Linked DNA regions of Homo sapiens. The protein of the gene in region 4 interacts with the protein of the main gene of each other region in a pairwise test. Each region holds a gene or a part of one and is shown on either strand. Other genes may lie near its edges.

Region 1 (8,033 bases), about 31 Mb from region 4:
TGGAAGGGTGGAAAGTGCAGGGATCATCTTGCAGACCACTGCGTATCTACTCAAGTGACTTCTGCCCAACCTTCCAATCACAACATAGAGAATAATCCAGAAACCTGGATTCCCAGACCTGAGTTCAGAGATGATACAGAAGGCAGAAAGGAAAGATGTGACATTTATTTCATCCCTACTACATACATTTATCTTTACATGCATTATTTCATTTATTCTCACAGTAAACTCTAGGAGATAGTTACTAGCAAGGGGCAAATATCAAATTTGAATACAGGTATAAGACTGGGTGTGGTGGCTCACACTTGTAATCCTAGCACTTTGGGAGGCCAAGAAGGGCAGATCGCTTGAGTCCAGGAGTTTGAGACTAGCCTAGGCAACATGGCGAAACCTCACCTTTACAGAAAACACACACACGCACAAAAATTAGCCAGGCGTGGTGGCATCTGCCTGTAGTCCCAGCCACTTGGGGGGCTGAGGTAGGAGGACTGTTGGAGCCCAGGAGGTCGAGGCTGCAGTGAGCCATGATTGCACCACTGCACTCCAGCCTGGGTGACAGAGGGAGACTGTCTCAAAAAAAAAAAAAAAAAAAGAATACAAGTTTAGCTGATTCAAAAGTTTGAGCTCAAGCTCAAACAAACAAAAATCACAAATACACTCCATTATATAAAACTGCCGGCTGGGGCCGGGCGCAGTAGCTCATGCCTGTAATCCCAGCACTTTGGGAGGCCGAGTGGGTGGATCACTAGGTCAGGCTAACACGGCGAAACCCTGTCTCTACTAAAAATACAAAAAAAAAAAGCCAAAAAAATTAGCCAGGTGTGGTGGCAGGTGCCTGTAGTCCCAGCTACTCGAGAGGCTGAGGCAGGAGAATGGCGTGAACCTGGGAGGTGAAGCTTGCAGTGAGCCGAGACTGTGCCACTGCACTCCAGCCTGGGCGACAGTGGGAGACTCTGTCACAAAAACAAAACAAAACAAACAAAAAAAACAGCCGGGTGGGTGCGGTGGCTCACACCTGTAATCCCAGCACTTTGGGAGGCCAAAATGGGCAGATCACCTGAGGTCGGGAGTTCGAGACCAGCCTGACCAACATGGAGAAGCTGTCTCTACTAAAAATACAAAATTAGCCAGGCGTGGTGGCACATGCCTGTAATCCCAGCTACTCGGGAGGCTGAGGCAGGAGAATCGCTTGAACCCGGGAGGCGGAGGTTGCTGTGAGCCGAGATAACGCCATTGCACTCCAGCCTGGGCAACAAGAGCAAAACTCCATCTCAAAAACAACAACAACAACAACAACAACAACAAAACAAAACAAAAACTGCCTCTTCAGATGGAAAAAAAATGGCTAACATACCTGGATTTAGGTTTGCTTCTGCCAACACAGAATATGGTAGTGGTTCCTGTCCTCACCTTCAGAGATTCTGATTTATTTGATCTGGGATAGGCCCACATATCCATCTATCTACATGTGTTTTTTTTTTTTCTTTTTTTTTTTTGCACCTGTAGTTACGAACCAAAGTGTAAGAACCACAGAATCATCTGGCAGAAAATGCAAAAGCTGAAGGCAAAGGGGTGAAGAAACTAGGGCTCAGCTTCAGGCTCTACTATCTACTTGCGCTGTAATCCCCACCCTTCCTGGAATAGTTTCTCCCTATAAAAACTGAAATAGTATCTGCTTCATCAATCCCTCCTACGTGGGATACTTGCATGCACAAAGAATATAGACATATTTGAGCAAGTGGGAAGAAAAGCAAAAGCTGAATTTGAGAGATAGCTGAAATTTGGTGAGCCAAAGATTTACACTCTGAAAGTACAATGGTCTGGCTAGTTTGCAAGGAGTAAGAGGCCCATTAAAACAAAACACTCAACTGCCTCCCACTACCACTAATATGCAGCATTTTGCCAATTACCCAAGCCCTCTTTATTTTATTTTTTTTTTTGAGACAGAGTCTCGCTCTGTTGCCCAGGCTGGAGTGAAGTGGCACAATCTCGGCTCACGGCAGCCTCTGTATCCTGGGTTCAAGTGATTCTCCTGTCTCAGCCTCCCCGGTAGCTGGGATTACAGGCACACGCCACCACGACTGGCTAATTTTTGTATTTTTAGTAGAGATGGGGTTTCACCATGGTGGCCAGGCTGGTCTTGAACTGCTGACCTCAGGTGATCCACCCGCCTCGTCCTCCCAAAGTGCTGGGATTACAGGTGTGAGCCATGTCCGGCCTAGGTCCCGTTTAGTCCAACTAATTTGAAAAGGTTTCCTTTGACAGATACCTCTTTATTGAAAGGATTTCGGGATCACCAATTACAGTTTAGTAATGCAGTTTGAGTAGCCTGCAAGAAGCAGCCCATTATAGACTATTTAACTGAAAATCACAAAACCTGACTTTTTTTTTTTGAGACGGAGTCTTGCTCTGTCGCCCAGGCTGGGGTGCAGTGGCACGATCTCCGCTCACTGCAAGCTCCGCCTGCTGGGTTCACGACATTCTCCTGCCTCAGCCTCCTGAGTAGCTGGGACTACCGGCACCTGCCACCACACCCGGCTAACTTTTTGTATTTTTAGTAGAGATGGGGTTTCACCATGTTAGCCAGGATGGTCTTGATCTCCTGACCTCGTGATCCACCCGCCTCGGCCTCCCAAAGTGCCGGGATTACAGGCGTGAGCACGCACCCGGCCAAAACTTGACTTTTAATCCATTCTCAAACTGTGCCCATGCCCAAACTGTGAATTTGGGCAAGTCACTTCCTCTCTTTAGGTTTGTTTCCTAAGCTGTAAAGTAAGAGGACTAGGTTAAATCAGGTATTCAGAGATGCTGATTTATGAAACCTGTAATAAATGGTCTTTGTGAACCATTTGGGATTATATGCAAAATTCCATGTGTGTGTTTATATGTGTGAACATTTTTCTGGAGGAGAGGTGCAAAATTTTCATGTGATTCATAAAGGGGCTTGTGATTAAATAAGAAGGTTAAGAACTGTTTGGCTACCCAGGCTTTGGCTCTTACTCTATTTGCTTCTTGGCCTCCTCCATGACAACTCTGGAAGCAAAGTTTAAATCCTGAAGTATATATAAATAATTGAATCTGGAGTCCTAGGACAAAATAAAGACAGATAATCCTGATCTTTTTTTTTCTTTTCTTCTTTTTGAGACACAGTCTTGCTCTGTCATCTAGACTGGAGTGCAGTTGCACCATCATGGCTCACTGCAGCCTCAACCTCCTGGGCTGAAGGTGATCCTCCCACCTCAGCCTCCCGAGGAGCTAGGACCACAGGTGTGTGCCACCACACCCAGCTAATTTTTAAACTTTTTTTTGTAGAGAGGAGATCTTCCTAAGCTGCTCAGGCTGGTCTCCAACTCCTGGGCTCAAGCAATCTTCCCACCCTGGCCTCCCAAAGTGCTGGGATTAGAAACGTGAGCCACCACACCAAGCCTAATCAGGTTTTTGTTGTTGTTGTTTTGAGACAGTCTCACTCTGTCGCGCAGGCTGGAGTGCAGTGGCGTGATCTCAGCTCACTGCAACCTCCGCTTTCCGAGTTCAAGCGATTCTCCTGCCTCAGCCTCCAGAGTAGCTGGGATTACAGGAGCACGCCACTGCACCCGGCTAATTTTTTTTTTTTTGTATTTTTAGTAGAGACGGGGTTTCGCCACGTTGGCCAGGCTGGTCTCGAACTCCTGACCTCAGGTGATCTGCCTGCTTCGGCCTCTCAAAGTGCTGGTATTACAGGTGAGCCACGGCGCCCAGGCCAAGCCTGATCAGTTTTGTTTCCCAAAGATCTGAGGAGATTTGCTTCCAGTAGGCAGATCTGAATCAAAGCATCCCCAGGACCTATGATCTGACCTGCAACCGTCACAGGAGTCACAAAGTCCTGAGGCCAAACTGGCTGCACCTGAATCCTAATGGTCAATGCCAAGAGGGCCATTGATTCTGTGGAAACCCCACCTACTCCCACTTTATGATATGCGCCTGTCCCTTACCTCAAAATACCTCCCCACTGGTCTGAAATTCCTCCCCCAGGGATTCAGTGCTTTGGGTTTGTAAAGTCTGAACATCCTGTGCAACCCAACTCCTTTGGGAAGAGGCATGACATGACGTCTTGACTCTAATTAACTAAAACTTGGAAGTGGAGGGGAGGGAGGACAGGGAAAGGACTGGAAGGGAAAGTGAGAGGGCTACTGAAGCTTTGTGCAGGGCAGGAACGGTAGGCCAGACTGGGGCAACCTCAAGGACACACGGAGTCCAAAGGGTTGTTTACATACTGTGTCCTGCACCCCAAGCAAAACATCTCCTGGAGAACAGGGCCAGGGCTCAATCTCCCCACAAAGGCAGGGGCGTGGAGAGAAGCGACCTCTACTTTCCCATCCCTCGCCTCAATTCTGCACCCGATCTAGCTATGGGGTCAAGCCTGGAGGGGACGCTGGTTCTCCAGACATGGTCCCGCCCACTGCAAGTGCCACCTTGGTAAGGGATTTCTCCGAGCAGAGGCAAACGCGAATTTGTGGCCTTCTTAATCAAGATGAGGTCTTCGAGCCCTGTCTGCCGCGCCAGGTCGCGTTACCTTCTTATGCTCCTCCGCCACAGCCAGACCACGACCCTCCTGCACGCAATCCCACCGAGACTGCGCCTTTTCCCCGCACCCCAGCAGGTCCCTAAGTAAGATGGCGGCGAACGCACTTCCGGCGTGTGTCCTTACGGGTGCGTCCGGGCGGCTGCTTGCAGGTGCCACCCAGCGGGTTCCAGCTTGTTTGCTGCATAGATTACAACGGTGATGGCGGGCAAGCGGTCCGGCTGGAGCCGGGCGGCTCTCCTCCAGCTCCTTCTCGGCGTGAACCTGGTGGTGATGCCGCCCACCCGGGCCCGGAGTCTGCGCTTCGTTACCTTGGTAATGAGAGATGGGCTCACCAAAGACTTCCCTGAAGCTAAAAGGGCAAAGGCCAGCTGGTGGAGGTCGAGGATCTCGGGAAGGAACAGCTGGTTTAGGAGGGGACGACTGGCCTGGGTAGTTGGGAGGCTGGATTCAGGATTGACCTGGAGCCCTGGCTTATGGGAGTCAGGATGACCGAATACGTCGGGGTGAGTCTGCCTTGAGACAGGGAAGTGGTTGAATGGTTAAGACTCATCCCTAAAGAAGCCTTTGGTTATCTTTTTTCCCCAGTTGTCCCCACCACATACGTTGCTTTCACTTCTCTTTTCCCTTCCTACCTGTACCTTGGCTTTGCCTATGGTCTCCAGTAGCATTGCTTAGCTAAGTTAGAATCTCTGGAATCTGGAAGAAGTGACTGACTCCTAGCTGGGGTCTTTTGCAGCCAGTAGGCTTCCCAGAGGGAATGAGACTTCCTTCCCTAACATGGGGCAAAAGGTAGGCTCTGGGTCCCTATCAAGGGGATGCTTCTGACCTATAGGCAAACCATTTTATTCTCTCAGCTGTACCGCCATGGAGACCGTTCACCAGTGAAGACATATCCCAAGGACCCCTATCAGGAAGAAGAATGGCCCCAGGGGTTTGGTCAGTTAACCAAGGTGGGTCAGAAGCCAGCCTTTCCTCAGGATGAGCTGCAGAATGAGCGACGTCTAGAGCAGTCTACAAAACTTGGGGTCCTACTAAACTGCCTTTTCCCATATGGGTGCTGACTTTGACCAGATTTCATAACCTTAATCTCTGTGCCCATGATATTGCTGTGCATGACTGGCCACTTAATGAAAGACTTCTGGGATCAGATTAATTGACTCCAGCAAAGCGTGAACCTGGAAAGCAACAGGGCCTAAACCCCATGGGGCTTGAAGCCACCCCTTCCCTCTAGACCCTCTTAACCCTTGGGTTTGCCCACAGGAGGGGATGCTACAGCACTGGGAACTGGGCCAGGCCCTGCGGCAGCGCTATCACGGCTTCCTAAACACCTCTTATCACCGGCAAGAGGTAAGGTTGGGAGCTCCAGAGGCAAGGGGAACAAGGTATGCTGCCCTCATCTTTTGCCCTCAGGGAGCCTAAGGCTGAGGCTGGGCACTTTGGCCTCCTTCTTGTATTTTTGGTCACAACTACAGGAAAAGACATCTGAGAGCTGTCTGGAACAAAGCCCTAGGAGCTGAGTTGCCCCTGCTTGGCTGGGATGAGGCAAATTTGATTAAGCATCCAAATTCGGACTTAAGGGCGGGCCTGGCAAAGTGGTTTCTGACTGTGAAATCACAGGCTTTCCATCCAAGACATTGAGTACCTATTAAAGGCCAAGGACTGTGCTAGCACTTTGCATTCAGTTGTGCACCATACAGATATGATCTCTGTCTTCATGGAGCTTAGAATGTTGTGGGGGTATCTAATGATAAACCAGACAGGGCCAAGATGAAAGACAGCGGGGAAGACATGCGTAGAGAGGGCTTGTCTTTTCTTGATCAAGATGAGGTTTTTGAGCCCTGTCTGCTGCGCCAGGTCGTGCTATATTCCTAGGGCACATCAGGGAGGACTGGTGAGTGTGCCTGCTCCTTGAGTCTTCGCCCCACCCCAGGAATGGGGGAAGCTGTTCCTCTGATTACCACTGTCAGCCTCAGCCGTATCAAGAATCCATAGACATTGTTATTGTTCTCTTAAGGCCCAGCTCTGTCCTGAGCTTGTCCTTCCCCAGTTTCCTCCTCCCTTTTCATGAGCCACTATCTCTGAATAAGCTCTTCAAAAAAAATTTTTTTTTTTGAGACAGAGTCTTGCTGTGTTGCTCAGGCTGGAGTGCAGTGACATGGTCTTGGCTCACTGCAACCTCCACCTCCTAGGTTCAAGCGATTCTCCTGTCTCAGCCTCCCAAGTAGCTGGGATTACAGGTGTGTGCCACCATGCCTGGCTAATTTTTGTATTTTTAGTAGAGACAGGATTTCATCATGTTGGCCAGGCTGGTCTTGAACTCCTGACCTCAGCTGATCCGCCTGCCTCGGCCTCCTAAAGTGCTGGGATTACAGGCATGAGCCACCGTGCCCGGCCCAAAATATATACATATATTTTAAAGGGGTCTCACTCTGTCACCCAAACTGTAGCACATGCCTCAGTCATAGCTCACTGCAGCCTCAAACTCCTGGGCTCAAGTGATCCTCCTGCCTCAGCATCCCAAGTAGCTGGGACTACAAGTGCCCGCCACACTTGGGTAATTAAAAAATTTTTTTTTGTAGAGACAGGGTCTCACTATGTTGCCCAGGCTGGTCTCGAGCTCCTGGCCTCAAGCGATCCTCCTGCATTGGCCTCCCAAAGTGCTAGGATTATAGGTGTGAGCCACCAGGCCCAGCCCTTTATCTTATTTTTTTCTCCCTGGTCTCTAAGGGTCGTCACTGGAGCCAGTTTCTGCCCCAAGGACCCTGATCTAGACAGGGAGAGAGGTGTTGTTATGAAACCAGACAGACCAGAGAGCCTTACTGATTGACTCAGCACTTTTGACTGGAAGGGGCATTTCAACTAAGGCCATTCCCACAAGAGTTCTTCACAGAGTGGTGACAACCCCCAGTGGAGTGTTTGGGGGATGGGGAAGGCCAGAGGCCAGAGGAGGGTGAGGGCCAGATGTATGGTAGGTTTAGTTTGCTGGGTGACCATCAGGAACAGGTTCTCCTCTGGGGCTCCACTTTGGGGTGACCAAAACTTCCCACCACACACACACACATACATACAAGGCTCCACTTCAGGGTGACCAAAACTTCCCCAACACACACACACACACACACACACACACGACTTGTGTTGCTATCGCTGCAGGTTTATGTGCGAAGCACAGACTTTGACCGGACTCTCATGAGTGCTGAGGCCAACCTGGCTGGACTCTTCCCTCCCAACGGGATGCAGCGCTTCAACCCGAACATCTCGTGGCAGCCTATTCCTGTGCACACTGTGCCCATCACTGAGGACAGGGTAAGAGTGGCCAGCCCTTCCCTGGGGTGGTGAGGGGACAGCTCTGGCCGTAGGCCTGCTGATGCCAGGCTCCTTTTCCCGCTGCCTGTTTCCCCGCTTCGCTCTACAGCTGCTGAAGTTCCCGTTGGGCCCATGTCCCCGTTATGAGCAGCTGCAGAACGAG
Region 2 (7,764 bases), on a different chromosome or scaffold from region 4:
ATGCCAGTGAAGGGACAATCTGGGAAACCAAAGACACCCACCGACCCCAGCCACTCACCCCACATTAGGATTCATAATATGGAGCTAATCAAGAAGAGGCAACCAACTGCAATGGAAATGAAAAGCAGAAGTAACAAAATGCCAAATCAAGGCAAGATCAAATGCATAGTACACATGTATGGGGATGGATCCAAATCAATGTCTTCATCAACAACGTTTTCTCTTAGCTTACTGTAGATCCTCACTGGTCTCTCAGGTAGTGTTACCTTGGAATTACCCTGGAATCCTTCAGAGCCTAACCTGTTCCTAAGTAGCTATCTTTCAGATGTCCTGTTTCCTAGAAAGAGAAACGACCTCATGCTGCAAAGCATGCTCTTGTCTTTCCAGTTTGCCCACTGGCTAAATAAAAATCCAAAACTAGTACCTGTCCACAGTTGTGCTTATTGTATATACTTCCTTGCCTAGCAACTATTGATTGCTAGGGCACTAAAGGTGAAAGAGAGAACTCTGGTTGAGCAAGTATTATAAGGAAATTTACATTCTAGGTGCAGCTCACTTATGAACTTGTCAGACAGTACTGCGTAAGTTACTTAATTCTTCCATGCCTGTTTTTCCTGCTTGCAAAGTGCAGCTCTCACCAGAACAGGGGATGTAAGCAGACACTAAGGTCTCTTGAAAATCTCAGAGGAAAAGTACCCACTTAGATCTTGTATGTAGGGTGACCTTTAGGTGCAATCTGGAAATTTCTGGTTAATGACAGGAAGCTTATCATCTTTCATTGAAAAATCTACCTGAAAAGTTTGCTTGGTTTTTTGTTTTTGTTTTCTGAGACAGGATCTCACTCTGTTGCCCAGGCTGGAGTGTGGTGGCATGATCATGGTTCACTGCAGCCTCGACCTCCCAGGCTTAAATGATCCTCCCACCTCAGCCTCTTGAGTAGCTACAGGCACCCACCACCACGCCCAGCTAATTTTTGTATTTTTTGTAGAGACAGGTTTTTGCCATGTTGCCAGGCTAGTCTCAAATGCCTGGGCTCAAATGATCCGCCTGCCTCAGCCTCCCAAAGTGCTGGGATTACCAGGCATGAACCACCACGCCCAGCCAAGGTTCTTTACAGAAAAAGAATTCCTCAAGTTCTTCTCCTGGCTCCTTATACATAGAGTGGAAAAAAAAAAAACACAAGCAAAGGGAAGAATATATAGCAGGAGTTTAAATCTGTCTAGCAGACCAAGAGTCAGAGCTTAGGAAAGAATTAAAGTCCAGCTGCGGAGAAAAACATGTTCAGGCCAAAAAGGGAGTTAAATGATTTTACTGCAGTTAAATTATGCTATCACATTGGCCTTTATGCCTCAGTGGTTGTCAAGAGCTGAATCAGGGGGCCCAGTCCTGGCAAAGGAGGTGATCATAAACAAGTGGCAGCAGCCATCCACATCATGTGTGGGAACCAACAGCACTAGCACTATACCAGCTCTAAGTAACTCAGAGCTCTTTTAGACATGGTATCACGCATTCAGGTCTCTCAACATCCTGGCAAGATCAAAAGTGGTCTGTGATTACTAACCTCATTTCATTGTTGTAGGCTCAACATTTGCCCAAGGGGATCAAGAAGTCAGTGACAAAAGTGGATGTGGAAATTGGATCTTGTAGTTCCTAATTCCCCCATATTGCCCAAGCCCTATAGATCAAGGGTCCCCAACCCCTGGGCCACAGACTGGTACTGGTCCATGGCTTGTTGGGAACCCGGATGCACAGCAGGAGGTGAGTGGCTGGCAAGTAAGCATTACTGCCTGAGCTTTGCCTCCTGTCAGATCAGCGGTGGCATTAGATTCTCATAGGAATGTGAACTCTGTTGTGAACTGCGCATGCGAGGGATCTAGGATGCATGCTCCTTATGAAAATCTAACTAATGCCTGATGATCTGGGTAGAATAGTTTCATCCCAAAACCAACGCACCCCAGTCTGTGGAAAAATTGTCTTCCACAAAACGAGTCCTTGGTGCCAAAAAGGTTAGGGGCCGCTGCTATAAATAACAGAGTCACTTAAGGCACTTATGCAACATCATCACTTCTTATACAACAATTATGTCCACTGGCCTCACTCTAATCCAGTAGTTAGTTGGTCTACCTGTCTACCTTCCCTCTTCTGGGGGCTTTTTGAGGACAGAGACAGTTTATTACTCATTTCTATACTCCCCAGACCTGGGTCATGATTCAGTTGATGTGCTGCTCTTAGCTTACCACTTCCAAGCCCCCCAGGATAATGAAGAAGCAGCATGCAAGTACAGCGTGCCAACTACTCCTGCTTCCAGCCAGTGACTGGTAAGAGAAGCAGTGTCTTTGTCTGTTTCCCCACCCTCCCTTGCCTCCATATAGCCCTTTGCTTTCCTATATTCCTTGTGATGGTTACTAAGGAACTAAGTTTCCAATCCAGCCAATGAAGACTGCAACAAAGGAGTTAAGTTGAAAGACAAATTGGAACAGAACTAAATTTGATGGCTTAATGGTTACTTTTCTCAAAATATTTCTGGAATGATGAACTTTAAAAAATGTCTAACTAGGATATGTGTGTATTAAAAACAAAAAACAAACAAAAAAATTGGTACTGTGCATATCACCTCTGAAGAAAGCCAAAACATGAGTCTGATACCCAGAAAACACTTGGTGCACCAGTAGTCAGAAAGGCTTCACATAATCAAGACACTTAGCCTTATACCCCATTCTCACAACAAAGGCAGGAGAGGAAAATGAAAATGAGCCCTCAAACTGGCACAGACTGGCAGAGACTACAAATGGGCCCTTACCTGCTGATTCTCCTGAACCTGGGCTGGGGGAACAGAGGTGGCTTGTGCAGATGAAGAGGGGAGGTTGGGTGAGGTAGGTGGAACCATGCTGGAGTGAGGCTGGGTCAGGAAGGCCTGCTGCTCAGGAAAGTCTGGGGACAAGGTGGAGGCACGAGTCCTGTCCTCCTGGGAGATTACAGGCTGCTGGCCAAGGACCAAGAGCACCAGCTCTTCTTTCTCCCGGCACATTTCGGTAGAGATGTCATGGAGGCTGAGATAGTCCCTCAAGTCCTTCACCTTCATCTTCATGAGCTCCTCTCGCTGAAAGGCTGTAGCTCGAAACCGTTGGCAGAGAAGGCAGAGGCGGGGCCCATTCCCTACTTGGCTCGAACAGGTCATGCAAAAATTTTTCTTACAGTCCAAGCAGGTCTGCTGCTTAGAGCAAAAGACACAGGAAACCATGTCAGATTGAGAGAACAAGACAGAGAGTGCGATGGGAGCTTCAGAGCTGCCAAGCCCAGCAGGATCTCCTCCAGTCACTCTTACTTTTACTAAGCTCTCTCATATATCTAAGGGTGCAAGCCACTTTCAGATTTTAGATTAAAAGCCACTCGGGTGGAAGACCTCCACTATGTATTGTGTATATCCATGTACAGGACACTTCACATTTATTATTTAATTTGAGGCTTACTTTATTTACTCCTGAAGCACCTGAGGTATTAATTAAGACTACCAGCATAAGAATCAAAAAGCTCTGCATTTTTATTAAGCCTCCCTCCCTTATTTCTTGCAGTATCACCTTGGGTGTGTAATTTAGCCTCTCTGGTGCTCAGTTTCCACATCTGTAAAATGGGGGTGATAACAGTATCTACCTCATGGGGTTGTTGTGAAGATTAAGAGAGAACCCATTTAGCATATCTAACACAAAATGAGTCCTCAACAAGTGTAAGCTGTTTTATTATAGCTAGGAAATATTACCTAACGGTGACAGCCAGGATTCAAATCCTAAACTGTAATTATTTCTGCATGAAGGTTATGGTGGTGGTGGTTGTTACAATTAATATTAATTTATTGAGGTGCTTCTATATGCTAGCTTGTCATTTAATTCTCAAAGCGACATTGCAAAGTAGGTATTAGTGTTCTTCCCTGATTCACAGACAAAGCAACCGAGGCTTAGGGAGATCAACTGTTGTATTCAAGGTCAGGCAATAAACAGGAGAGCGGGTATTCACACTCAAGGTCTGTTGGAGGCTAATGCCCATGATCACATTCTTTCCACCAGGCCATACTGCATAGCTCAGTTCCATTCAAGTACAGAGCAGTTCTGAGTCAAGGGCCTGGCTTCCATCTCCAAATTCCCCACCCACTGCTCCATCGACACAGGCTCCCCACTCCAGGAAGGCCCACTCAGAGTGCTGGGAACCCAGTGGTGCTTACAAGCATATCCAAGACAAATATTTAGACAGCAACGGGAGGCTGTCTGGACATCAGGGTACTCTCGTTCCTGAAAGCACAGAGTGTCTCAGTTAGGCAACAAGAGCGCCTGATGGGCAAGCTGGTACTGCCTGGCAGCAGCTAGTCTGGCAGTCGCTGACAACACAGGAAGGCTTACTCAGCCCACAGGAAGCAATCCTCGGCCTCTCACCCCACAGGCTGAGTGAGCACAGTGACATCCGGCTGAGCTCTGTTCTGGCCAAGAGCATGTCACATCCCCAACAAGAGAGGTAATTCCTGAGCACACTGGGATTGGCCTGGAGGGCACCCTCATTAATCCTTTAAAGAAGTTAAAAACTTTTCATCCTGTGTTGACTTAAGTAGTAACTTAAATATTTCTGGTCCATCTTTTCGAAATATAGAAAGATATTCAAGCTAAAAAAGAAAGCTCAAGAGACAAGATTCTCATAGTCAAGATCACAGACACTCTGGGCTGAAGTAAATGTCTGCATAGTTAAGATAGTTATATAAGTTTTGTCTAAGTATCATTCACATAGTAAAGGGAAAAGGAAATAATATTTACCACCCAGTTTTGGCTATTAAGACTTAGAAGGCATTGCAAAGGGACATATATCAAGCTCCCTAATTCTCCATACAGTTATAACCAAACAATACTGTTCAGAGATGGACTTAAAAGGATGCATGGCTGCACTAGCATTGTAACGGTTCTGGGACCAGTAGCCATGCAGGCAGAAAATGGATGTTTTCAGGTATTTGGGGTTCATTCACATCTAAAGCTTTTCTATTGGGAAATGAAGTCTGTTTAGGATGACTGAGACTGAAACAAAGAGGCTTCAATGCCATAAACCTGTGGGCCTGACATGGAATATTACTTAAGTCGATGCAGTCTGACAAGACCTAGCTTGACACAATTATAAAGCCTGCGTTGCTCAATCAGCCAGATCCAAACAACTCTCTATTCTTTCTTCAAATGTGTGTGGCTTGCTGGATGCAAGATCAGAATGCAGACAACAACCTAGCTTCTATGCACCCGCTGGCTCACAGGGAACTCTGAAATAAGCTGGCATCTGAAACACACCCTACAGGAACAGGATAGGGCTTGAGGCTAAAACCCCAGTTTGCAGTGGCAGAAGAAAACAAGAAGAAAGGAAAAAAGGGCTGTCAACAAATGCAGGCAGAATGAGCAAAGGACACACTTATGTATAAATTCTGCCGAATGGTTCAAAACAACTCAGTAACCAGGTAGCATGAAAGATGAATTAGTGGAGGCAACCAACATGCCTGCAGAAATGCCCAGGGTGTACTGAGATATCCAGCATCACAGAACTGGCCGTGGCGCCTCAGGCCGACACCACCCTTCAAGGATGCCGTGTGCAGGGTTCTGCTGGCTCCCGTTTGCCAACTGCCCTTCCCTTGCTCCTACTCCCTCCCACCCTATTCCCTGGAATATGGGAAGTATTACATGAGAGAATGTATATAAAACCTTAGCACAAAGTGGATGCTCCAGAAAAGGTAACACGGTTACCTTTTTCTTTCCCCTTACCAGCACCTAAGACCCAGTCCTCTCTTAACACTCTGAGATCTGAATATCACTTCCATGGCTCCAAGCATAACCTCATCCTCCAACTGGTCCAACTAAAGAGGCTGGGTGCCAGACTCCCTCCAAAACCGTCAGGGTCGCTGCTAAACCACAGGGAGGTATTACCAATAGAGATGGGGTATTTGGCTTGTGGCAAAAGTACAGCCTGCCATTTCTCTTTAGGACTGAAAACTCAGGGAATGCAAGGGCCACATCTTACTTATATTCTGTCTATAAAGTCCTGAATGTTATCTGTGCTTTGCACCCAATAAGCATTCAGAAAGTACTGACCATAATGAAGAATAAGGAAAAGAAAAAGATAGTAGGATCCATGGAATCATTTCAATTCAAGCACTTCTAGAAAAAGACATTTTGAAAGCCCCTGGGTGTTAAATGCCAAACCCTTAAGATAAGAATGCTGATCCACTTAAGCATGAAATTACAAATGAAAAATTCTCATAGATGAAAACACCCTTAATATTCACAAAATTCACTGTAAATTGCACAAAATTAACTCATACTTTTGTAGCAAGAAAATATTGTAGCAAGAAAATATTGTACCAATAACCATCTTTTACCATCCAAACTGGAATTTTTCTTCCCCTCCAGAAGCTCTTGTTACACACACTTTTCTTTTGTCACATCGTATGGTGTGCACTGTCCTCACCTCCCTGTCCAACTGCAAGCTCCCCGTTAAGCAGCAATGGCCTTCTTCATCTCTGCCTCCCTAGCCCAGGCAATTCCTGATACACAGTAGATATTCAGTAATTCATTTTCCAATAAGTAAGAAAAAAAGCACCTTATTTTAATCATTGCCATGCTTTTCTAGGCACCCAGGCCTGTAACTGTCATCTTCTACTCGACATGCTGAATGTCTTCTGGGAGGGGCTTTGGAATCAAGGACCTGGGTTTGAATCCCGGCTCTGTCATTTAATAACTATGTGATCTTGAGCACTACTGAAGTCAAGGGAAAAGAATGAGTATTTTAATATCTCTCATGCTATTTGTCAGGAATTTAACACATTCAATGTTCTTCTTAAATTTTAAACCCTAAGCCCTAGTTTCTCATATGTAAAATGGGATTTGGGAGATTCTAAAACCTATATCATAGCTATTGTGAGGATTAAATGAAATAAAAAAATTTAAATTCCTTAAACAGTCCTTTGCACATAGCAGATGGTTTAAAAGTATGATTTCCTCTCAAATTTCCCATGATCACCATTTTAACATCATATCCTATCACTTATTCTGAGCTGCAAACCTCTCATTCTGCAGAAAAATGCAGAATGCAGGAGTTCTTTATCCAGGTGAGGGTTTACCTTCTGCCTAGTCATGCTTGATCACAGATAACTCACTGCCTCTGGAAGAGGGAGGGTGCACACCTAGACACCATTATCTAGCCAGTAATTTTTTTTCCAGCTCATTCATTTGGGAAGCATGGCTCCCAAGCATTTCAAATGAAATCTGCTACAGTAAATAAGCTCCAGTCTTTGTTATGGTCTTCATGTACCTGAGGCATCCTTAACGTTGCTTTTGATAAAAAGAACAAGTTAATCTGCAATCAGGCCTTTGTGATGGTGGCTAATGATGGAAATAACATCAAGTGCCTACGACATTCTAAGCATTGTGCTAGGCACCTTTCATGGCTTTCTTGTCTCACTTTATTCCCACAACCCTGAAAGATGAGGACTACAATCATCCCCATTTTATAACAGGGAAACTGAATCTCAAGAGAGGTTAGATCATATAGCTAGTAGGTAGCAACGCTGATAACTGAATTTAGGTCTACTGACTCCAAATCTATGCTGACATGCTTTGCTTTTGCTTTTACTCAGTTAGTTCTTCTTGAACATTTTTGTGAAAGGGACAGCTCTGGGTCACCAGCATCACACAGGGAAAGGAAAGGTTGCAGGCATTCAGAGGGGTCAGTGGCGCTTGCCCATGGTCCATA
Region 3 (7,768 bases), on a different chromosome or scaffold from region 4:
GCTGTGGCAAAAAAGATTCAAGTTTTACTAACTAGTCATTTCTTAAAAATACAAATTAAGGTATTTTTCATTCAAGTTGGCAGAGGTTCTCTTTGAGACAAGGCCTCACTCTGTCACTCAGGCTGGGATGCAGTGGACAGTCTTGGCTCCCTGCTGCCTCAACCTCCTGTGTTCTAGCAATCTTCCCACCTTAGCCTCAGCTGAGACTACAGGCACGCCAACACCACACCCAGCTCGTTTTTGTTAATTTTGGTAGAGACGGAGTTTTGCCACGTTGCCCACCCTGGTCTCGAACTTCTGGGCTCAAGCAAGCCACCAGCCTCAGCCTCACAAAGTACCCCATATTACAAAAGCATGAGCCACCCATGACTGGCTTTTTTAAGAAACAGGATCTCACTCTGTGCCCCAGGCTTGGAGTGCAGTGGCAAAATCATAACTTACTGCAGCCCCCAGCTCCTGGACTTGAGGGATCTCCTGGCTCAGACTCCCAATTAACGGGAACTATGGGTGCATGCCGTCATGACTGGCTAAGATTCTTAAAAAATTTCTGTCCCAGTATTTCATTGTTTTAAGGTAAAAACTTTGACTATGGGAAAATGTGATAAGCCACTTTAATAGAATTTCTAGATATTTAGTGGCACAAGTCTACACAAAATGAAATTATAAAGTTCAACATACTGCCAGATGCCCAGCATGTATGTTGAAAAGGTCTTACAGGCTGGGCGCAGTGGCTTACGCCTGTAATCCCAACACTTTGGGAGGCCGAGGTGGGAGGATCACTTGAGATCAGGCGTTTAAGACCAGCCTGGCCAAATGGTAAAACCATGTCTCTACTAAAAATACAAAAATCAGTCAGGCATGGTGGCACATGCCTGTAATTCCAGCTACTCGGGAGGATGAGGCAGGAGAATCCCTTGAGCTTAGGAGGCAAAGGCTGCAATGAGCCGATATCACACCACTGCAGTCCAGGATGGACAACAGGCAACAGAGCGAGAGACTGTCTTGAAGGAAAAAAAAAAAAAAAAAAAAAAAGGAAGGTCATAGGTCATAAGGGCGATTTCTATGGCTCAGTCCAACTTAAGATCTCTTAACAGTGGAGTTTGAGTTTTCTATTTTCTTTTTTTTTTTTTTTGAGACAGAGTCTCGGCTCTGTCACCCAGGCTGGAGTACAGTGGCGCATCTCAGCTCACTGCAAGCTCCGCCCACCGGGTTCACGCCATTCTCCACTTTGGCCTCCTGAGTAGCTGGGACTACAGGCACCCGCCCCCACGCCCAACTAATTTTTTGTATTTTTAGTAGAGATGGGGCTTCACCGTGGTGTGGATCTCCTGACCTCGTAATACGCCGGACTCCACCTCCCAAAGTGCTGGGATTACAGGCGTAGCCACCGCGCCCGGCCTGAGTTATTTCTGTTTTCTTATGTCTTTCTATGTCTCACAATGTCTGTAAGCTTTATTTCTATAATATAAAAACTAACCACTGTTCCACAAACCTGGCCAGTATTCCTGGAGGATATAACACTGACATCAGCAGGGTTTTCAATGGCAACAATTGCACGAGCTGCCAGCAGAAGCTTCTCCCAGGTCCTCTTGAGATTTATGATATAGATGCCTAAGTGAGGGCAGAAGGATTTGTAACACTTGACCTGGCTGTGCAAACATTCTTCTCAAGTTTACTCTATGTGGCAGCGAGTACTACCAAACTCCAGTCATAGAGGCAAGCTCTACTGGTGTTAGCGAAAATCCTGCCATTGATATAGCACACTTCCGACACTCAGAAGTTCATGAGCCAAGACTGGCCTCCACCCTGAGCTTTAATAGTGTGCAGCCTAGATTCAGTTGGCTAAATCCATCTTTCCTTTCTCTTTCCCTGTACTTATTCCATCATTGGTTCTTAATAATCCACTTCCTGGCTTTCTGCCACTCTTTCCCTTTTATAATCTGCACTGATGCAAGATTCATCCTAAAACTCCTTTACAGCATGTCACTCCCAAGTCCTTGGTAGCTTTATCTCTAAAATAAGTAAGTGCCTTAGCCAACTTAATGCCTTCCATCCTCTGGTTCTTCCAAACCATATTGTTCATTCCCACCTCTTACCCCACTTTCCACTCAAAATTCAGTTCAATAGCCTGTGTAAGTACCTATGAAGTTGAAGGCACTATGCGAGCTATTAGAAACTCAGCCAATGAACTTTCTCATGTTCATGACCCAACCCAAGTCCCGTAACTCAGACAACTGACATATTCCTCCCCTGGAGCAGAAATCTTTTCTCTCAATAACAAGAACATTTATTTAAAGTATGTTTTCAACGTAGGGGTCTGGCTTCATTTAAGGAAGATAGAAAGAAATTACCCAGAACTAACCACGAGAATAGCAAGCTCAAAATTTGTACTTACAGCTGGAGTAACAAAAAATTAAAGCAATGACTAACCATCACTTTTCCTTTTATAGATGTACTGTTCCATCTGGAAGTCAAGATTGGTGCCACCTAAGTGGGTTCCTGCTGCAAGGAACTTAAGGACATCCTCCTCCTTCATTTGCAGGACATCAAGGGCTCCGGACATTGTGAAAATTTCCCTTTAAGTTACGACGGGAATCTGAAATAAGAGAGCAACCTATTTCTTTTCATTCCATTGAGTTAAGTAGGGCACACCCTTAAAAGCAACCAAAAACTCCATCTGCTATAGTGTCAGGCATTGAGCTTACAGTGTAGTGAAGGGTAAACAGAAAGTTAACCCATACATGTCGTGTATTACGGAACAGCGCACATCTTACTGAGGAAATAGTGTGGACGGCAGAGTAACCGAGTAATAAAACTACACGAAATTAGCGAATGGAAATTCAACACTTCTCAAGATAGGAATTAAGGAAAAGTTGTGGATGCGCCAAGTTAACAACTAGATACAAAAGAGCAGCCATGTTTGGAATATGCAAACTAAAGGCAAAAAAGGCATGAATTGTTTTCAGACATTTTCAAGCAGATTGTAGGCGGATGCTTTGGAATTACTTCGCTGTGCTGTCACCACTTGTTTGTCTAAAAACCCGAGAACCTTAACTCCTGACCCGCACGGCGCGAAGGGAAAACCCGACCAGCCCAAGTAGCTGGTGTAAATCAGCGCCTGGGCCTAGACTCACCGCCGTGTGGGACTCCGAAGGGATAGCAACACAGGATGTTAGCCCGCTTTCTGCACTCCCGCCCACCCGCGGCCTGGTCCGAACCCCAGCTCGGAGCCTCCGCTGGAGGGCGGCCTCCACCCGCTCCCGGGGCACTCTGGGAACCCGCCAGCCCGAGCCTGGCCACGTGCGGGCCGCAGGCCTAAGGTGGGGCGCGCCGGGCGGGAGACAGATCCAGTCTGACCGGCTTTCATCACTAGTCTTCTCACCCTTCATTTGAGCAGGAAAAGCTCATTTTTCTAGCCCTGGAAGGCGCCAGGGACGCTACACGGAACTCACCCAGAACAACGCCGTATGGACCCCTCTGCAGGTAGCACGGAAAAGACAGGCGGCAGGAAATGACGTCCTTATGTACTCCGTTGTCAGCCAATGGCAAAGAAAGTCGAGCGGAAGAAGGGCGGAGCCGGAGAAGAACGCTGCCGGGACTGGGCTTTTTCTTCAGGAAGGCGGGCTTGCGCCGCAGGAGCGGGCCTCTGGGCTGTAGCCGGTAGCGGCATCCTGGTCGGATCTGGGGCGCTTGTGACTTTGGGGTTTCTAGTGCCACAGCGACGCCCTGTGCATAATTCCTGTCCAGAGCGCGGAACTCAAGTTAGTCAGCCAGGCGGGGCGTTCTTACCCAGCCCTTGTACCTGCGAATATGAGCGGCTTTCTAGCCTAAGCTGCCATTTTGTTACCTGAAAAGTAGGAAGGTTTGTTCGACACAACAAATTGTTAGGTAAACAAAAACTTGAAGATTTATTTTATTTTATTTTCCTGGAGAACAGTTTAACAGGACGTAATTCAGATTTAAATGTTCACTTAAGGGAAGTTTTCTCTGAAAAAGTTAAAAAAGATAAGATTGAACTGATCGTATGCGTTATGTCTATCTCATGTATCTATCCATCTATCACCTGGGGGAAGTTTCCCTGAAAAAGTTAAAAAGGACAAGATTGAACAGATGGTATGGATTATATCTATCTTTTTTTTTTTTTTTTTTTTGGTAGAAGAAAAATTTTGCAATATCCATCAGTAGGAGATAAGTTTGCCGGGCGCGGTGGCTTGTGCCTGTAATCCCAGCACTTTGGGAGGCCGAGGTGGGTGGATTGCCTGAGCTCAGAAGTTCAAGACTAGCCTGGGAAACATGGGGAGACCCCCATCTCCACAAAAAATACAAAAATTAACCAATCATGATGGTGCGTCCCTGTAGTCTCAGCTACTCAGGAGGCTGAGGCAGGAGGATAGCTTGAGCCTAGAGGTCAAGTCTGCAGTGAATGTGATTGCACCGCTGCACTCCAGCCTGGGCAATAGAGCGAAATTCTGTCTCCAAAAAACAAACAAAAAAATAGGAGTTAATTGAAGGGGCGCGGTGGCTGTAATCCCAGCACTTTCGGAGGCTGACGCGGGCGGATCCCTTGAGGCCAGGAGTTCAAGAGACCAGCCTGGCCAACATGGCGAAACCCGGTATCTACTAAAAATTCAAAAATTAGCCAGGCATGCCTGTAATCCCAGCTACTGGGGAGGCTGAGGCGGGAGAATTGCTTGAACCCAGGAGGCAGAGGTTGTAGTGAGTGGAGATTGCGCCACTTGCACTCCAGCCTGGGCGACAGAGTAAGACTCCGTCAAAAAAAAAAAAAGTGCAGGTTCCTCTCTGGGGCCTGCTGAGTCAATCTGATTTCTGAGCCCACCCTAAAATGAACTCGTAGACCCTTATGGCCACTCTTCCAAAGGACAGCACATCCAGGTTCTCCTGCAAGTGGCTCTGCAGCTCCACTGAAGCCAGTATGATTTTCTGAGGAGCTTGGAAACCCTTGGACCCTAGCACAGGTCACCCCCAGGCTGCTCTGCTTCATCACCCACCAAGGCTGAAGCACCTGGGGCTTGAGGGACAAATTCAGAGAAGTCACAGCCCCTTGCGGCAAATGCAAATGCCTCCCGCTTCTACGCTTTGTTATGGGAAGAGGAGGCATTCAGTTTGTTGGCAGAAACTCAGGCCACAAGCCTCCTCAGAGGCCCCTGAGTCCCAAAACAATGCCCTGCCCCCTGCACCCAAATGTACTCCTGCTTAACCCTTCACGTGTGGATTGGGATTGCTGAGTAGTGAGTGCAGCTCTGCAGGGTTCCTCCAGGGGCCTCAGCCTTGGCATTAGGATCACCTGGGCAGCTTTTAAAATCTTACACCTGGGCTGAATATATCAGAATCTCTGAGTGAGACCCAAGCATCAGTAGCTTTTAAAGCTCTTGTAGGGGCTTCCCCTCCACCCTCTGAGTGTTCACTGCTAAAATGAACTGACAATAGACAAATTAACAGGAGAAGAAACATACACTTTTTTTTTTTGAGACGGAGTTTTGCTCTTGTTGCCCAGGCTGGAGTGCAGTGGCTCAATCTCGGCTCAACGAAACCTCCACCTCTCGGGTTCAAGCAATTCTCCTGCCTCAGCCTCTCGAGTAGCTGGGATTATAGGCATGCGCCACCACACCCGGCTAATTTTGTATTTTTAGTAGAAATGGGGTTGCTCCATGTTGGTCAGGCTGGACTTGAACTCCTGACCTCAGGTTATCTGCCCACCTCGGCCTCCCAAAGTGCTGGGATTACAGGCGTGAGCCACCACACCAGGCCAAACATACACATTTATTAATGTGCTTATGCACAGGAGCCACACGAAATATAAGACTCAAAGAAGGGCCAGATGGCTGAAGCTTAAATAGCATCTACTTCACAGGGAAGGGAGATGGGATGGTAAACAATTTAGAGGGCTAGTAAGTGATTTTTGGAAGGATAGGAATGAGTTCAAAGAACAGAAAATTTGCCTGAGACAAAGTTCCTGTGAGCTCTGGGGGAAACAGCAGCAAAGGGTAAGGGGAGGAACTTCACTGTGACCAAAGGTTGCCTTATTAGGCAAATAATGTCTCCTGGAAAATCTCTCAAAAGCTGCCCTCAGAAAAATAGATGAAGAGTCTGTCTGGGCATGGTGATGACTTTTAGTCTTTTCTCTTCCCAGTGGTTAATATTTCCTGGTTACCTGATGAGATTCTTAGGGAGGAAGTTTTAAGACTATTGTATTTTATTCTGGAGGAACCTACCTTATTCAGATAAGGGAACTTCAGACAAAGCCCCTCCGGATGCTTTGGGAAAAGGGGATTGAGAGATGGGGTTAGGGGAAGGTCAGAAAGAAACCTTGGTTCTGACGCTATTTCAGAAGCCTTTCAATTTTCTTTAATTCAAAGCATGCAGCATGCCAAAGTGCCTTATTCAGTCAGGGGTATCATTTTCTGAGCCCCAACATTTTCCAGATGATTCCAATGTGCAGCCATATTGAGTTTAAAAACCACGATCCTAGACTCTAGAGTATTTCTTCTTTATTTTATGTAATTTTTTTTTTTTTGAGACAGTCTCATTCTGTCACCCAGGCTGGAGTGCAGTAGTGTGATCTCAGCTCACTGCAACCTCTGCTCCCAGGCTCAAGCAATTCTCCAGCTTCAGCCTCCCGAGTAGCTGGGACTACAGGCCCGCACCACCACATCTGGCCAGTTTTTGTATTTTTGGTAGAGACAGGGTTTTGCTTTGTCGGCCAGGCTGGTCTTGAACTCCTTACCTCAAGTGATCAGCCCGCCTCGGCCTCCCGAAGTGCTAGGATTACAGGCATGAGCCACTGCACCCGGCCTAGGGTATTTCCTGACTACCTAAGCTAATGGCTCCCAGGAGCAGAGAAGAACTTAGAAGCTAGTTCTACCTAGAGGCTGTTGCATTGAGGCACCTTTTTTTGGAGGGAGTGGTGACAAAAGCTGAAATTTAAGACACAGTGGATTGTTAAATTTTTTTTTCTTCTTCTTCTTTTTTTTGTTTTTTTTTTTGAGACAGAGTTGCTGTCTCCCAGGCTGGAGTGCAGTGGTGCAATTGCAACTCACTGCAACCTCTGCCTCCCAGATTCAAGCAATTCTTGTGCCTCAGCTACCCGAATAGCTGGGACTACAGGTGCACACCACTACATCTGGCTGATTTTTTGTAATTTTAGTAGAGACAGGGCTTTGCCATGTTGGCCAGGATGGTCTTGAACTCCTGACCTCAAGTGATCTCACTGGCCTTGGCCTCCCAAAGTGCTGGGATTATAGGTGTGACCCACTGTGCCCTGCTGCTTGTTAAATGTATTTATTTATTTTTTGAGACAGAGTCTCCCTCTGGTGTGCAATGGCATGATCTCAGCTCACTGCAACCTCTGCCTCCCAGGTTCAAACGATTCTCCTGCCTTGGCCTCCCAAGTAACTGGGATTACAGGCGCGTGCCACCATGCCCAGCTAATTTTTGTATTTTTAGTAGAGATAGGTTTTCACCATGTTGGTCAGGCTAGTCTCGAACTCCTGACCTTGTGATCTGCCCGCCTCAGCCTCCCGAAGGGCTGGGATTATAGGCATAAGCCACCGTGCCCAGCCTGGTTGTTACATTTAATATCAACAATAAGTTAGAAGGCCAGGCGTGATGACACACACCTGTAATCCCAGCACTTTGGGAGGCTGAGGTGGGCAGATCCCTTGAGCCCAGGAGTTCGAGACTAGCCTGGGCAACATGGCGAAACCCTGTCTCTACTAAAAATACAAAAATATTAGCTGGGTGTGGTAAT
Region 4 (7,764 bases):
CTTTATCATCTCAGTTCCAAAACGGAGTATGACTGCTCAAATTGTCGATGGATTGAAAGACGGCAAAGAGGTCTAAACTAGGAGCTGGGACTCTAGGGTCTGAGTCTCATCTCTGGCACAATGACTCTGCAACTCTATTTAAGTCTCTTAACTGTCATTGGCCTCATGTGAGATGGAGACAAGGAGGTTTTGTCCCACCAACCTCTCTGCCTGGCTTAAACAACAGGATGGACAAGAAAAGGCTTTGCAAACCATAAAGCAAGATGCAAAATGAAAGGAATTAATATTGTTCTATTTTTTCATCATACAGAGGAGGTTACATGCAGAGTTGGAATACTCTCAGTGGAAAACAAGTAACAATAGAATTTAGGTACTTCAAATAAAAGTTTTGACTTCAACCAAAGAGATTCAAGTATGATTTAGAAAATATTAAGACCTCGTTTTGCTTTAGCAGTCTGTTAGTCCACACAGGTTTCACTCCAGTTTGGACTGATCTTCTGAATTTATTTTTTAAATCTTTGATTTGATTTACAAATGAATAAAATACAATGATTTGGGCTTCTAAACCCATAATATGTTATACTGTGGTTAATCAAGAATGTCCTATTCTCCATTAGTAGAACATTAACTTCTCTGGGGCTAGCTCTGTTAGACAACTACTACTAACAGCCTCCAGTGCTGGAGGACCAACTGGTAAGGGATCTGGGTAGAAGACACCTATGTTTTTGAGTATCAGTGACCTAGGTGGTTCGTAAGTTCCCCTCGGCCATGGATGACCAAGGACCATCAAACTATTGAGAACCCCTGTGTTACCTCCTCCTCCCTCTGAGTCTCAGCTAGGACTTATACTGACCTCGGTGAAGTCGGCTGTTGTCCATTGCAGGGAGGGTGTTGCGTCTGGGGATGGTGGCAGCGACAGATCTGCTATTTTCACTGATTGGCGGTCTCTGCTGAGGACTGCCCCATCGAGGTGTTTCTGCCTGACTTGGCTTGGGGGGGCGGGGTGGGGGAGCTATGGCTGAGTCCCCAGGAGTGGCCACTGTCATGGCATTGTGGTTTTTGTCCAGAGTGAATGTCCTAGGGATCTGGTAGGCTGAGAGTGGGGTGGCCGGAACATCCATATTGTCTACCAGGAGGTCCCCGAACTCCCTGCACAGGGTGTTGCTGGGCGTCTTGAAGGTGTACACATCCTCATTATCTGTCTCGGAGCCTGTGAGGCTGCCCTTGGTGTGGCCATGGGAGGCCAGGCTGCGGGGGAGGTCGTAGGTACTGTCTCTGAATTCTGTATTGTGCCGGCTCGGCTTGGGAAGGCTATAGAAGCCATGGACTTGACCACTGATCCCGTTGACACAGTGTCCATTGCCCTGGGCAAGTTTTTGTACAGCTGTGTCACTCCTCATGAGAAAAGAGGCTCTGGTGCCCTGAGAGAAGCTGGCACTCCTAAAAGAGAAAGAAGGGAAAGGGCAGGAGGGTGAGACAATTACTAGCTGTGTGACCTTGAGGCAAAGCACTTTCTCTTTCTATACTTTGGTTTAGGCATCTGTAAAATGGTGACTAAAAGCATATTTTGAAGGTTGTTCAGACTCTAGTATATGAATGTTTAAACAATGTTAGACTTCATCCGTCCCCCATCTCCAAATGGCAGTTAATAGCAGGGGTTATAACCCCCACTCCCTGAACAAGTATCAATAAGCCAGATGGATTGCCTATTTGTTCACTGTTTTAAGTACCGCAGAATATGCACATTCGAACACAAATGTTGTGAGACAGTGGAAAGAACCTTTAAGTTGATGACAGGAAACAGCAAACAAGTCATTTTACCTCTCTGAGTCTATTCTGCCACTGTGAAACTAGCCCATGGGTATTGATGTTGTAAGTTGAAAAGAATTATTTGGGTCAGGTGCAGTGTGCAGTGGCTCATGACTGTAATCCCTGCACTTTGGGAGGCTGAGGTGGGAGGTTCACTTGAGGCCAGGAGTTCAAGACCAGCCTGGGAACACAATAAGACTCCATTGCCACCAAAAAAAAAAAAAAAAGAACTAGCTGGGCAGGGTGCTGCACACCTGTAGTCCTAGCTTCTGGTGAGGCTAAGGGAGGAGGATCGCTTGAACCCAGAAGTTCGAAGTTAGAGTGAGCTATGATCGCACCACTGCATTCCAGTCTAGTAAACAGAATGAGACCCTGTTTCAAAAAAACACACGCCCCAACACAAACAAACAACAAACTATTCAAACGTAAGCTCTAGATTTATTTTCTACCATGATTTATGGTTGGTTAAGAGGCATTTTGAGGGGAAAGATCTCTTTCCAGAGACCTAGAAATCTATATGAAGAATGGTTTCCTGTTTGGGAACTATATATAGAAAAAGTTTTGATTAGTACATTTTTAAATTTAGGTTTTGGGCAATAAGGCAAGCAGTAAAAAGAGAAGAGAAACAAGAGGGGAGACTTGTGTTAGGTTCCAGTACTGCTACTGATACGTGCTGTGTGTATCACCAAGCCTCCTCTCTCAGGTGGGACCTAGTACGTCACAATGATTTCTAAGGGCCCATCTGGCCCCGATGCTCTACAAGCCCTTCGTTTCACAAGAGTGGTTTTCAAACTAGATTCCAGGTTCTCTGTAAGTGCTTTGGGAAATTGGAGGGTGAGGTTCTGAGCAAGCAGGGATTTAGGTCTGCTTCTTTAGCTTGTGTATGATTCTTCATAGGATTTCACTTGGGGAAAAAAAGAATCAATCCTTTGTAGCAGGGATTCTAAGCCTTTTGGAGGCTATAGGAGTTTTTAAGATTCTGGTCAAAAGCTCTTGGAGTGTCTCATCAGAAAAGGCAAATCTCGTATACATATAAACTTGTTGGGGCTGTAATACATAATAGCCCTCTGAGGCCAATCCCTGGACCTTTTGCCTTATAGAAGCTCTCTCAGCTCCTGAGGAGTTTGTTATTTACAGATGTGGCCACCAGATGGTGTTAGAAAATAGGGGCCAGAGCTTAGAAAGAGGAAACAGGTGTGTAAAGCCAGGCTTCCTCTCATGTAAACTGTACCCACCATGATGGCTAGGAATTCCAGGTCAGTCTCCAAACCTTCACTGATGCTCCTCCTTGGGCCTCTGCACTCCTCCTCCCTTTCTGTTCCATTCCAGACACATAACCAAGCCAACAGCCATGGGCTTGGATGATTGAACATCTAGGCTTTAGATAATGTAGTGCTTAGGGAAGAGGACGGGGGTGGCGGGGGGAGCGAATGGTAGACATAAGGTGTTAATGTTGTATGCATTTTTTTGGTGCCTTTCATTTTGCTTTTTTTGGAATTTCCAACTCTCTGTTGGATGCTCCCATCTGGATTTGTTCATTTTACATTTACTGATGTCCTAATTTCCATCTGGGCCAGGCAAAAGGGATACAGAGATGCCACCTGCCCAGTGAGGGGTGGTCTGGGAATGTCACAGTAGGGCAGGAGATGACATGGATGCAAATCATTACAGTCAAGTAGGGGTGAGTATGTAGCTGCTGACAGTTGGTATCAGCCCTTGCTGGGGGTGGTGGTAGACAATGTCAGGGAAGCCTCCTTCAGAGATGTTTTATCTTGAGTGAGTCTGGAAGGATGAGCCACAACTGGCCAGGCAGAAGGCAGGAGAAGGGAAATGGTGTTCTAGTTGAAGGCTCAAAGATGTAGAACACAACCTGGCAAGTTCTAGAAACTCGAAGCTGCTCAGGCTGCAGCAAGCACATTAGAAGGCAGGGCTGAGAGAAGACACTGGAGGCCAGGCCAGGACTAAAGGGAACGGGGAGCCTCTGAAGGATTTCAAGGTGGGGATGGGGTTGCAAGAGCATCACAGGCACCCTGCAATAACCTTCAACATACTCAAGAATGAACTCATCATCTTCCTCTGGAACTCTTCTCCTCCTGCCTCTCTTATTTTGGGAATGGCAACAGTTACTCAAGCCAGAAACCTGGGAGTCACCCACATTATGATTTCTGCCCAGGGCCTCTCTGATCCTTCCATCCTACTAATATTTACTTTCCTAACTTCCCAGTGTAAACATTTTCAACACCGCCTCAATGCTTCAGGATTAAGCCCAAACTCCTAGGTTTATCCCAACTCATCTCACCAATCTTTTCTCTTTAGTTCCCTTTTCCACTCTAGGATCCAAACCAAACTTTGCAGTGTTCCCTGTGTGCCCCAGTTAGTCAAGCATTGGGCTTTGCTGCATTGTTGGGCTGTGTCTGGAAGGCTTCTTACCTCAATCTGGCAAGTTCCTACTCCATTTATCCTTCAAACTCATCTCAGAAGACACATTTTTTAAGGCCATTCTTACATCCTCTACCTCTAAGCATTGCTTAACTTAATCACTTGCTTAACTTTGTTCTTGGAGCAGGTAGCAAGTGTTACCTATATTAGGCACCATTACTACTTATCTCTGCCAACAGACTGTGATTTCCTTGAGGAAAGAAACTGTGTCTTACTCATTTTTCTCTCCTTAGCACCTAGGTTAATGCTTGTTGCATTATAAATAATGAATAAACGTTTGTTGTAAGTAAGCAAATGAATAAACAAACGTATGTTGCTGCTATCCCTTTTCCTGGGCTTGGCCCAAACCTTCTGATCAGCAGATCAAAGCCCTTCCTCTGTAGAACCCACTAGCTTACGTTCCAACTTCCCTCTACCCCGGCATCCTCCTGTCTCGCTCACAGAACTACTCACTCATCCCTAAACATGTCCTGTGTAGTCTAAACTTCAGCCCTGGTCTTGCATTACTCACCTCCCTGTGGAACGCTTCCTTGATACATCAACACCTTACACAAAGTCCACAAGAAGCCTTTTCACTCTACAAAGGTATTACAGGTCCCTAATTCTCCTTTTTATGGTAATCATTCCTTCCTCTGTGCTACCACAGCACTCTGTGCTTCCATCGCAACACTCACCTTATTCTGCCTTATGTCAGTTATTCAGGTCTGTGTCTTTCCACTTCTACCAGACCATGTGCTCCTAGAAGGCAGAGGGCCATATCCTGTACCCTGGCATAGTGCCAGGCATATGATAGATAATAGTGACACATGTTGAGGGAGACTGATTATCACCTCAGTAACCAAGTAAGAGGAGTTGAACAAGGGACTCTTGCCCAAAGTTACATACTCAGAGGGCAGGGAATTTGTTCTAGCAGCCAGGTCTCTGGGTGCCCCCACTGCGCAAACCATGCTAAAATGTGGTCCCTTTGGGCAATAATCTAGATGGGGAATTCCAAATACTCAGCAGTCTTATGGCCTTTAGTATTTTCATGTAAACCTTAACTGAGGCCTGTGTCACTGTGATGACCTGAGTTGCTTTTGTGGGATGGATAATCCACCTGGAAGTGGTGGATTTGGAGAGAGGCTTCTCTTCCAGGGCTGGGCTTACAGAAGCCTTATAAAATAGGCAAGATACTATGCCATACATATCACATGTGATCTCATTTTAAATCCTCCTAATAGTTCTGAGACACACCTCTTACTTTCACATTATCAGATGAGGAAAACAGTAAATGGCAGAGTTGGAGCAGGAAGATACTCAAACACAAGCACGTATGGGAGCTCCCCAGAATCAAAAAGAAGTTTGAGAGAAGATATTCCCTCAAGCCAGCAGTGCCAAGTGCCTTCCCTTTCCATTCCTGGCCAATGGCTCTTCCAGAGGCTATAGAGGCTATTGCCACCATACAGTCTCTCCCTTGGTGCGCGCGCGCGCGTGTGTGGTGTGTGTGTGTGTGTGTGTGTGTGTGTGTGTGTCGGAGTCTCATTCTGTCTCCCAGGCTGGAGTGCAGTGATGCAATCTTGGCTCACTGCAACCTCCGCCTCCTGGGTTCAAAGCGATTCTCCTGCCTCAGCACCCTGAGTAGCTGTGATTACAGGAGCGTACCACTGCACCTGGCTAATTTTTGTATATTTAGTAGAGACGGGGTTTCATCATATCGGCCATGCTGGTCTCGAACTCCTGACCTCGTGGTCTGCCCGCCTCAGCCTCCCAAAGTGCTGGGATTACAGGCGTGAGCCACTGTGCCCGGCCTTCCCTTGGCTTTTAAAAATGGTTTTCTAGTTTTTCTAGCCACTTCATTTTGTACTTGTTCTTCCACACATTTTCATATAATTTTATATACCATACTATATGATGATTTTGCTTTTTTCTATCCCACTGGACTCCAAGAACCCTAATGATGAAGGACTCACTTTGATTTTCAATGAGTATGTTCCCATTTAAGGGTGACTTAATATAAAATGCTTGTAAGTAGATTAAACACCATTTAGAGTTCTGTAACTGTCACTGGCCATGTTTAAGAGGTCATTTGAACTATCCTCTTGCATTTGACCCATTCCAAATGGATCCTTCCTGTGAAAGAAGAAAACTCTGTGTCACAAATCTTTATGAGATGAGGCAATCTTTGTATCTCAAACCCTTCTGGCTGCAGTTCTGAGCCAATTTTGGCAGGACTCTGGTTACAGAGCAAAGCTGTATATGTGAAACTAAAAGTTGTATATTTTGCCTTTGGTCAGTCAATCAAAGCCTCTGGTGAATGAGTCAGGGAAGACTTAGAAAAGATTAATGATGGGTAAGCTCTCCACTGACATTTCTAATTTTACCATTTACCCACCATCTTTCTATAGACTACTGCTGCAGGGTCAGTGATTCTGGAATCTCACCAATGAAATTTCACTCCTAGTAACCCTCACCAGAATTATGGCTTTTCAGGGCATGTGACTCACATCAATGTATCATCTGTTACAGGTTTAACAGCCTTCTTGAAATAAGAAGACAGACACTGGCTAGAATCTGGAATGAGGCCCCAAAGGCTGGAGGACAAAAATAAGTCCAGTGAAACCAACTTGTCTTCAAAGAGAAAAAGAACTCTATTTGTCTTGACTCTGCCAGTTCAAAACTCTTTCCGTTGGCAATAGATATTATTCTGAATAGTTACTTATTTTAGCTCAGTGGAAGACCTGCATTTTGAGAAATGAAGTTATTTTAGCAAGAATACATATTATCTAGTACTTGAAGGAAGACTAGTGGCTATTATTGCAGTAAAAGTGATGATAAATACATAATTCACAGTTTTATTTCTAAGGTGCTTAATTTACTGTATCTTTACAATCAGGTTCCCACATAAATGAAAAAAGAGATAGATAGAAGGCTGGTATTAGTAGCCTCAGTAATCCAATCAGACACAGTTATGTCTAGTCTATGCGAGGCAGGATGAATGGGCTGATTCACTTTATACCCCCTACTCAAAAATAATCTTACAGGATTACTTTGGAGATCATATGAGGTACCTAATGTAAAAGTGCTTTGTAAACTTTAAAGCATCATTTCTTTCTTCCAGAGCACCTAGTATATAATGTGAATGTTAGAGGAAACACAGGATTAAAGTCTATTCATATACTTACCAATACCTGGCACTGTTAAGTTTTTTTTTTTTTTTTGGTGACAAGGTCTGGCTCTATTGCCCAGGCTGGAATGCAGTGACGTGATCTCAGCTCACTGCAACCTCCGCCTCCTGGGCTCAAGCCATCCTCCCACCTCAGTCTTCTGAGTAGCTGGGGCTACAGGCATGTGCCACCATGCCTGGCTAATTGTTTTTGGTAGAGATGGGGTGTCGCCATGTTGCCCGGGCTGGTCTCAAACTTGTGAGCTGAAGCAATCCGCCTGTCTTGGTCTCCCAAAGTGCTGGGATTATAGGCATGAGCCACTGCGTCTGGCCTGTTAGCCATTTTTATTTTAGCCCTTCCAGCAGAGGTAAAG

The links.
Region 1: the proteins of GAB2 (region 4) and ACP2 interact in binary tests that used the Homo sapiens proteins (3 or more experiments, as listed by UniProt).
Region 2: the proteins of GAB2 (region 4) and RFFL interact in binary tests that used the Homo sapiens proteins (3 or more experiments, as listed by UniProt).
Region 3: the proteins of GAB2 (region 4) and RPSA interact in binary tests that used the Homo sapiens proteins (3 or more experiments, as listed by UniProt).

What each region holds. Positions count from the first base shown.
Region 1 is NC_000011.10:47,245,519-47,253,551, reverse strand, and holds the start of ACP2 (lysosomal acid phosphatase isoform 1 precursor), read left to right. Parts: upstream 1-4,748; 5' UTR 4,749-4,762; coding exon 4,763-4,876; exon of another isoform or gene 4,877-4,913; intron 4,914-4,923; exon of another isoform or gene 4,924-5,037; coding exon of another isoform or gene 5,038-5,067; intron 5,068-5,196; exon of another isoform or gene 5,197-5,252; intron 5,253-5,418; coding exon 5,419-5,514; intron 5,515-5,824; coding exon 5,825-5,911; intron 5,912-7,717; coding exon 7,718-7,870; intron 7,871-7,979; coding exon 7,980-8,033. Other genes in the region: NR1H3 (oxysterols receptor LXR-alpha), read right to left, coding at 4,688-4,748.
Region 2 is NC_000017.11:35,018,571-35,026,334, forward strand, and holds part of RFFL (E3 ubiquitin-protein ligase rififylin), read right to left. Parts: intron 3,212-7,764; coding exon 2,801-3,211; intron 1-2,800.
Region 3 is NC_000003.12:39,402,449-39,410,216, reverse strand, and holds the start of RPSA (small ribosomal subunit protein uS2), read right to left. Parts: upstream 3,498-7,768; 5' UTR 3,453-3,497; intron 2,597-3,452; 5' UTR 2,564-2,596; coding exon 2,431-2,563; intron 1,827-2,430; exon of another isoform or gene 1,678-1,826; intron 1,612-1,677; coding exon 1,493-1,611; coding exon of another isoform or gene 1,478-1,492; intron 1-1,477.
Region 4 is NC_000011.10:78,225,612-78,233,375, forward strand, and holds part of GAB2 (GRB2-associated-binding protein 2), read right to left. Parts: exon of another isoform or gene 6,754-7,764; intron 1,441-6,753; coding exon 854-1,440; intron 571-853; exon of another isoform or gene 1-570. UniProt on the Homo sapiens protein: Adapter protein which acts downstream of several membrane receptors including cytokine, antigen, hormone, cell matrix and growth factor receptors to regulate multiple signaling pathways.